Linked DNA regions of Homo sapiens: region 1 is linked to region 2. The links come from fine-mapping of genetic effects on plasma protein levels. A gene starts in region 2. The other region holds a variant in brackets. All regions are shown on one strand. Distances are from middle to middle.

Evidence for each region. A credible set is the group of variants that fine-mapping cannot tell apart. PIP is the chance, under the fine-mapping model, that this variant and not a neighbour inherited with it causes the effect. Protein levels are from antibody-based Olink assays in UK Biobank. Linkage for the fine-mapping came from a reference panel and not from the study's own genotypes, which makes the PIPs less certain.
Region 1: its variant is the best candidate, but not a certain one, in a credible set for the plasma level of the TNN protein (UK Biobank, PIP 0.57).

Annotation. Positions count from the first base shown.
Region 1 is chr1:175,085,693-175,090,026 of GRCh38, forward strand. The region is part of intron 6 of TNN (tenascin N); the gene reads left to right. Among named protein-coding and RNA genes, the nearest start is that of TNN, 20 kb to the left of the region's middle. The variant T/C (reference allele first, on the strand shown) is at 822.
Region 2 is chr1:175,065,998-175,070,391 of GRCh38, forward strand. It overlaps TNN (tenascin N), which reads left to right and starts at 1,836. Exons shown (of 19, transcript NM_022093.2): 1 at 1,836-1,938. RefSeq lists an enhancer at 1,157-2,356.

The sequences.
Region 1 (4,334 bases), 20 kb after region 2:
GGAGAAACCCTGTCTCTACTAAAAATACAAAATAAGCTGGGCGTGGTGGCGCATGCCTGTAATCCCAGCTACTCGGGAGACTGAGGCAAGAGAATTGCTTGAGCCCGGGAGGTGGAGGTTGTGGTGAGCCGAGATCGTGCCATTGCACTCCAGCCTGGGCAACAAGAGTGAAACTCCATCTCAAAAAAAAAAAAAAAAAAAAGAGAATTCTGGGATTTACATGTAGAGAGAGTCTATCCCTTTATGTACTGATGTCTATTTTTGGGCAGGGAAAGGGAAGCAAACTTTTCCTATTTCAAATTTTTCTTGCCATTGAAAATCTCTCCCAGGGTCTTGGAGTCAAGGGACAAGACTGTCTGACACCGTTCTGCTTATTTTAATAGCTTCTATCACCGCGTTGTTTTTAAGGCATTTATTATCTAGGACATAGGCACATAGCTCCTTATTCCCTAAAGACAAGTGATCTATAATTTTCTTCTTGCCACACCTGTGTTTTTTCCTGATGCCCACATTCAGTAGACTCCTCTAAAATGTCAAAAGATATTAAAAACCCTCACATGGGAGTAGTGGTATGTTGTCATCTGTGTATTGAGAAAATATATAATGATAAAAGGTTACAAATCAGTCATATTTGACAATAAGTTTGTAATTTATTAATCAGAACAGAATTGGAAAACATGGTAGGCATACATACGAGACATCCTAGGTAACTTTTAGTTTTTAAACCATGCTTGAGCCCATATTGAATTGTGAACTTCCTCATTAACTCTGTGCTCCTGCCTTCCCCATGCTGGAAACCTGTGATCTAGAACATAGTGCCA[T/C]TCGGGGAGACTAATCCTTGGAGCTGGTAAAGAAGGAGTCTTTGAGTTTTGAGTCTTCGTTGAAAAGTTTTTTAGTTCTTTCCAATTCAGTCCTGGAAATAGCTGGTTATGGTGGTGAGAATAAGAGGTGAGATGTTGTGAGAATTGAATTCACTATTTCAGCTGCCTAACAGATTGCTTATCTGCAGTATGAAACAGTTATAGTTGGGCATTTATAATGGAGAACATATAACTTAATTTACAAACTAGACAAGGTAGACTGTACAGTCTGCCTGAATAGTGGACTAGGGAACTGTTTTAATGGGTTAGAAAATGGTAAGTACTTCTGTGCTTCCAGTGGCATTCCCTGTAGCTGTGAATTAATTGAGAGCTTACTGAGTGCCAGGCATTATAATCACTAAGCACTTTTTATGAATATCTCATTTAGTTCTCACAGCAATCCAATGAAGTAGATACTATTATTATTTCTCTGCCACATATAAGAAAACTGGAGAAGTTAAGCTCAAGATTGCCCAGCCAGGAAAGGACAGAGCTGGGATTTGAACCCAGGATACCCAAGTCTAAACCTTTGGGCTTAGCTACTGCAAACCAAAAAGTATCTGAGATAGGCCTTAATCAACTTAGAAGTTTATTTTTCCAAGGTTAAGGACATGCCTGGGAGAAAGAAACATGGAATCACAGAAACAATCTGTGGTCTGTACCTTTCTCCAAAGATGATTTTGAGGACTTCAATATTTAAATGGGAAAAGTGGGCTGAAGAGGAAATAGGGAGGGTATAATTCCCATGTTGGAAGAGAAAGGAGCAGGTAGCGGGATAGTCAATTACGTGTTGAGTACATTTGCACTTTTCTCAGGATAAGGTGAACGTGGAGTAGCTACCTGTGGAGATATTTAACCTTTTATCCGGCGTAGGAACAAAAGGAAAGGCAGCTTCTTGCATAACTCAGCTTTCAGCTTTATTTTTTCCTTTTGGCAGAGTGAATTGGGGTCCCGAGTTTTTTATTTTCATTTCAAACTACAAAGCTAAAGTGCTTCCCACTTTTACCTTCCTGTAAGAGATAAACACTTTTTCTTCTCTTACACAGTCAACACAACACAGAACATTTCACCTCTGGAAGTGATTTTTCCCCATACACCAGGGAGTTTTCCATCGGACACAAACTGGATGTTCTATAATTCAATTCATATCTGACATTGTCTCCCTGGAAATAGCCTCAGATCCCACAAGTTAAAGGCCCAGTCCCACAAGACTTTCCTCACTTCAGATGCCTGTCACAGTCCCCAGGTTAGGACCTGTACTTCTGACCAATCAGCTAGAAATTGGGGGTTCTTATGACTCCCCTCCTTGAGTTCCATTAATTTGCTAGAGCAGCTCACAGAACGCAGGGAAACACTTTACTTACGTTTACCTATTTAGTATAATAAAGAATATTACAAAGATCCAGGTGAAGAACCAGATGGAAGAGATGCATAGGTCAAGGTACGTGCTTCCATGGCCTCTGTGGGTGTGCCACCCTCCCCAAACCTCCACTTGTTCAGCAACCAGGAAGCACTCTGAACCCAGTCCTTTTGGGTTCTCATGGAGACCTCATTATATAGGAATGATTGATTACATCATTGGCCACTGGTGATTAACTCAACCTTTAGCAACTGTGAGCGCCTCTCTCCTTCCCCTTGTTAGGGGGGTGGGTAGGTGGGGCTGGTAGTTCCAATCCTCTAATCACAATGTTGGTTCCCTGGAAACCACCCCCTTTCTGAGGCTACCCAGGAGCACCCCTCAACCCCTTACAGCAGTCATCTCATTAACATACAGAAGACACCTCACTTTGGAGATTCCAAGGGTTTTAGGAGCTGTGTGCCAGGAATCAGGGACCCAAAACCAAACATGTGTTTCTTGTTATAAATCATAACATCACACCTCCCCTCCTTCTTGCCCATTATTTCTGGTTAATTTTCATACTGTTTGCTTCCTAACTGAAAAATTTTCTATGATTCCTCACTGACTGAGGAGGAAGCATAATGCTTTTATCTTGGCCTCCGTGGCCCACCCAGCCTGGGCCACTGTTATTCTCATTACTTCCCCAGGGAAAGCCTTCCTGTAGCCAGACTGTTTGTGGGGTTTCCTAACAGAAAGCTTATCTCTGCAAGTGGGTTTCTGTTGTTACTTAGCCTGGAAAACCCTTGCCATTATTTCTAGCCACAAATTAATTTAATTCAACAAACATTTATTGCAGGATGTATCTGGGCCAAAGAGACCTGGTCCCTTTAGAAATTTCCAGAGCTGATAAGCCATGGTCCTTTTCCTTCAGGGGATCACAGCAATAATGTGACGTATCCTTCCAGGCTGTGCTCAAACAGTTTCTCCACTGCAGCCTTCTATGACCGCATTAAATGTCAGCCAGATTTGTTTCTGAGGTCTGAGAGCATTTAATCACATATGGCCTTGAATTGCTAGTTAGCCTTCCACCTATACTGGAATGTTGTTACTCAAAAGTGTTTTTATTGTCAATTATATCCTAAAACCAGGATAGAATATTTTATTGGATTGCAAATAAATTTGTGTCATGTGTTTTACCAGCATCAAAAAGAAAAAGACACTGTAATTTATAGGGTCAGGAAACACTCTTAAACCTGGCTAGACTGTTAATTAATTTAAGGGAAAAGAAGAATCTCTGTTTTCTCCAAACGTTTTGCATCCCACCAGGTGGAAAAGGATGCTGGAACTTAAGAACAGCCTAAGCATGTGCAGGAGGAAACGAGGAAATGACACCGTTCAGGGATTTTTCATGTAACGAGGCACCCAGTGTAACTAACACCATGACAGGGAAATGGTTGACTGAAATTCCTCACCCTGTTACCCAACATGCTCAAAGTGCGCTGGAACACCTTCCAGAAAGGCCAGCCTCAGAAGCAGGTCAGCTTAAGGAGCAGCAAGCATACGCCAGGCCAGTGTCTCTGGGGGATTGGCGAGGGGAATGTCCCTGGACTTCTGCATCATACCCTGACAGCTATGCTTCCCATTCAATGAAAAGAAAGGGAGGCTACTAACTGAGAGGTGATGTCATTCTTTTGTCCTCTATCTATAAAATGAAGAGTTGGACTAAATGAGTTTAAAGTCCTTTCTCTTTTCTTATGATGATGGTATTCTGTTAATAGCTTCATGCTTTTCCCTGGTGTGTATAAAACAAAGCATGCTTGCTTTGTTATAATTTCACAAGCTCCCATGCACAGCAAAGGTTATAGCCTAGAATATTCACTTGTCATCAATTTTCTCAGAACTTTCCTCCTTAGACTATGCTGTGAAATAGCAGTTTTGCTTTTCTTAATATCTTTTTCACTTTTTACTGATTTCCAAACACAATGTTCCATTTGAAATGGCTTAGCCCCTAAAACTTTGGAAACTCCTTCATGTCCTAGGCTGAGCTCCTGTCACCATTGAGAACTCCTGTCTCATACACAGCCACCAACACACACATTTAGCATCTGGACAACAGCAACAATCTCTATCATTTG
Region 2 (4,394 bases):
CAAGTCTGAAATAATTATAAAATAAAAAGTTTTTGTTTTTGTGTTTGTAAGGAATGAGCACGCACTTCCATCTGCCCTCATCCCTTTACCCTTCCTGTTGGCTGGGAGATGATGACCCTAGAGAGTGGTGGGTGTGTGCTGTGGATGGTGGCACTGCCCTACCAGCCCTGGGCCACTGTCTTCTACTGTTTGGGGAGAAATCATCTATGTTGTTAAGTCACTGCATTGGAGGGTCTCTTTGCTACAGCTCCATGTCCTGCAACTAACTAATACCAGCTGTAATAAGGAGAGATTGGAGGAAGGTGGCTTCTTAGGAGCCTGGTGCACTGGTTTAGTTATTCCTATTGAGGGCATGGAAAATGGGGTCACGGAGAGAGTTGGTGAAGACCACTCATTTGGGGAGAGTTAGTGAAAGGAAATTAAGAATAGGAGAGCAACTTGAGGGCGCAATAGAGTCTTAGGATCCTCTGGGAGAGATTTTCCCTTTTAAGAAGCAGAGAAAATAGTCCAAGGGAGAAAAGAGATGTTTGGGAGTTGGGAAATTTTCTGGTGACCCTGGTTCCTACTGCACTGGTCACCTCTGTATATGGCTGGCCCAGATTCCAGGGCCAGATAGCAGGATTATTTGTGGTTGTAAGTGAAGGGCAGAGAACTATGAACCTACCTGGACTGAGGTGGAGAGGATCAAATATGATTTAGTGGGATACATAAGGAGAATTAAAAAGTTATAATAATCATGGTAGCAGGTAATCTTTACCAAGTCCTCATTGTGTCTTGGGACTAGTCTAAGTTCTTTACCCCATCTACTCATTTGAACCTCACAATAACCATAAGACACTATTCCTATTTTACAGACGAGTAAGCTGAGCCACAAAGAAGTTGTCAAAGGTCATTTGCAAGTAGCAGACACAAGCTTCAGATCCAGGCAAGCTGCCTCTGGGAACCCCCCTCCAATTTCTGGGGGCCACTTTTTGGTCCCCCGTCTCTCCTTCTCCTTTCCCTCCAGCAGCATTTGATGCTGACATAGGTGAACTGGAAACATATGGTCTCCTTCATTTTGTTGTGGATCTGCACTCCAGAATCTACTTCCCACAGAGCAGGAGAGGGATGGGGTGTAAGGAAGGGTGGCAGGTGTCAGCCCATGCCCTATTGAAATGACTCTGGTTCATAGGAAGGATGAAGGCCTGTCCATCTGAGGGCAAAAGAGGAAGGGCAGCCAGAAAGGGGCACGACTATTCTTTCCTGATTTTGGAGCTCTTGTACTGTTGGCGTGTGGGAGGCATTTGGGATGGGGTGAGGGTCAGAGTGGGCTTGTGGGACCGAATGTCCCCAGTCTGTTATTCCTGCCCCCACTTCAGAGTCCTGCCACTCACAAGTGTGAGACGATGGATGAAGGAGGAGGGAAGTCAGAAGAGCTTCTGTCCCTGAGGGTCTCTGCTCATTTCTTTCTGTGCTAAAGGCTTTTTCCCATTTTAAAAGCAGTAGGCAGGAAGTCCCAGAATGCCTGAAACAGGAAAAAGAGAAAGAAACTTTATAAATGCACTTTTGAACCCCGAGACCCAGCTCCTGGCCAGGAGACAGGCAAACTCTTTTAATATCCTTATTCTGGATTCACTTAAATGGAAACAGCCTCCAGTATTTTTAGCTGCTGTGTAATCAAAGTGAAAAAGAAGAAGGAAATGTATATATTTTTCTTTCCTAGTTAGAATAAGAGAAGGAATTGCTCATTATCTTTTAGCAGAGTCCCTGCTAGGAAGGGAGGAAAACACCAGGAGTCTCCATTTGCTCCTCCTCTGGCCTAGACAGGATTTAAACCCAGGAAGGGAAGCCAAGGAGAGACGAGAACCAGGGACGACCAGCAAGTACCAAGGTCTGCGGCAGGAGGAGACCGGCTCACAGGAGCAGCAGCATTGGAAGAGGCACCCAGCAGCCTCCCAGGTAAGAGTGCCAGTTGCCCAAGCTTTACTTACTGGAGGGAGGGAGGTGGCCAATGCAGATGAGCTCAAAAGTGGTGGCTCAGGTGCCTCCGTTCCCGAGCCTGAAAATCCGGGCAGTGTAATTAGTCTCCTATCACCTCCATGAAGAGTTAAAATGAATTGGGAAGTACCTCTCAGGACCCGTGTACTGCATCCTTAGTATTATACTCCAGTCTCAGACAGGGCTAAGCATAGTTATCCTCTTTCCTGCAACACAGATGCGTCTGTGTTGTATCAGCTTCTACCTGGCGTAACACATTTTTGTATAAAATGTTTCCTTTAAGATGTTCCTTCTCATTTTTTTTTCTTTTTAACTTACTTACAATGTCAAAGCTTTCTCTCTCTCTGTCTTTTTTTGGATAATTTAGTATTGTTGTATTTCATTATTCTTTTAAATCCTAAAACAGAATTGTTATTTTAGTTATGATTAGGAAGCTATGATAACTTTCCCTTTGTCTGGATTTTGTGTGAATCAGTTAAGGGGATGTTTGCAAACACATTTGAACAGCTTTGAAGTATCTCCAGACATTTAATTTTACAGGTTTTAATTATTATTTGTTAAGACGACAACTTCTCTCGAAATCCCCATACTATTACCCTCACAATACCTCAAAGAAAACATTTCAAGACATCTAAAAAAATGATGTGGTTGGCCGGGCATGGTGGCTCATGCCTGTAATCCCAGCACTTTGAGAGGCTGAGGCAGGTGGATCACCTGAGGTCGAGAGTTCGAGACCAGCCTGACCAACATGGAGAAACTCCGTCTCTACTAAAAATACAAAAAATTAGCCGGGCGTGGTGGCGCATGCCTATAATCCCAGCTACTTGGGAGGCTGAGGCAGGAGAATTGCTTGAACCTGGGAGGTGGAGGTTGCGGTGAGCCGAGATTGAACCATTGCACTCCAGCCTGGGCAACAAGAGCAAAACTCCATCTAAAAAACAAAAACAAAACAAAGCAAACAAACAAAAAAAACTAGTTTTTGGAGGTCTTACTTTTTACTTATTTATTAATTTTTGTGCTTGGGAGAGATCTGGGGGAAGGATGGAGAAAGAATGAATGAGAACAGGCAGGGCTTCACTTAAAAGCATGAAACCTGTGTTGCTTATATAAGCATTAAAAAAAAGAACAAGTTCCAACATAAAAGTAACAAACTGCCCACATTGGGACACAGGTTAGCCACAGTGCCTAAAATCCACTGGTTCTTGGAAAAGCTGAGGTGTCACCAAGGCATCAGATGATACCTTGCTCGGTCAGGGCTACGTATTGGCAGCTGGCCTCTTGACATTCAGACATTTGTTGCAGACTCAGAATCAAGGTGACAGTGTCAGACACAGGAAAAAATAGAGTATCAATACTGGTATCATTTTTCCAGGAGAGAAGGGAAGAAGGCACCTGGCATTCTTTCATACAACTCTAAGTACTGCTTTGTCCCCAGTTTATAGGCTGCAGCTGACTCCCGAAGGAGGGAAAATAGAACAAATGATTTCAAATCATCCCGTGGCTTCTGGTTTTCCAGTCCAGTGCTGCTCTGTGGTTTGAAATGTAGGGTGGGCAGAGCTCTCTTTCTGAGAAGATGCCTGAGGAAATTGTGCCCAGGCCCAGTGGAAACTTTTGTCCATTCACTGCTCATTCCAGAGCCTTGGCTCCTATAGGATCTGGATACAGACATGAGATCATGGTTTAGGTCCTGTAGCCACATCTGGAGCCACCAGTCTGTGAGCAGAAGTTGCTAAGATCTCAGGCCTGATCTCTGGATGGACAGGGACTTTGCTGCTTCTGCCACAGTGGACTCACTGCTAATGCTGCCCAGCCACCATTTGAATCTGTACCCAGCGAGTGTGAGTGGAACAGTGCAAATGCTTGGAAATTAGCAAACGCTCTCCTCCTTGCTAGAAGACTGGAACTTTAAAGTTACTTCAATATGTGGAAAACAACACGTTAGCTAAAGAAAGAAATTGCAGAGTTTTTTGTTTTGTTTTGTTTTAATCTGACGCCCCTCACACCCATGGATATTAGGGCTAATTGTATACAAAGTAATATTTAGTCATTCTGGGGACTGGCTGTTTGGTTGAATAAGGGAGAGGAAGGTTCCTGAATTTAGGTCCCGTGTCTATTTTATCTTGTTATTGTGCATGAGCTTGGTCCCACAAAAGCTAAAGGAAGTTCTTGCTGTGAGAAAGTGATTCATTCTCTGGGGGTAAATGAACATCTTTGCCTGATGTCCAAGAGGAGATTTTAAAGTGCTTTGCACAGAGCCTGGCATGTAATAAATGCATAGAAAATGGTAGCTACCATTATCATCACTCATTTGAGCCTTTGCAAGGCAGATTAAGAGTCAGTTGTCAAAACAAAACAAAATGAGCCTGTGGTCACCCCTGAAAAAGTGATTGAGTGCTGAGGCTGGGTCAGGACACCAT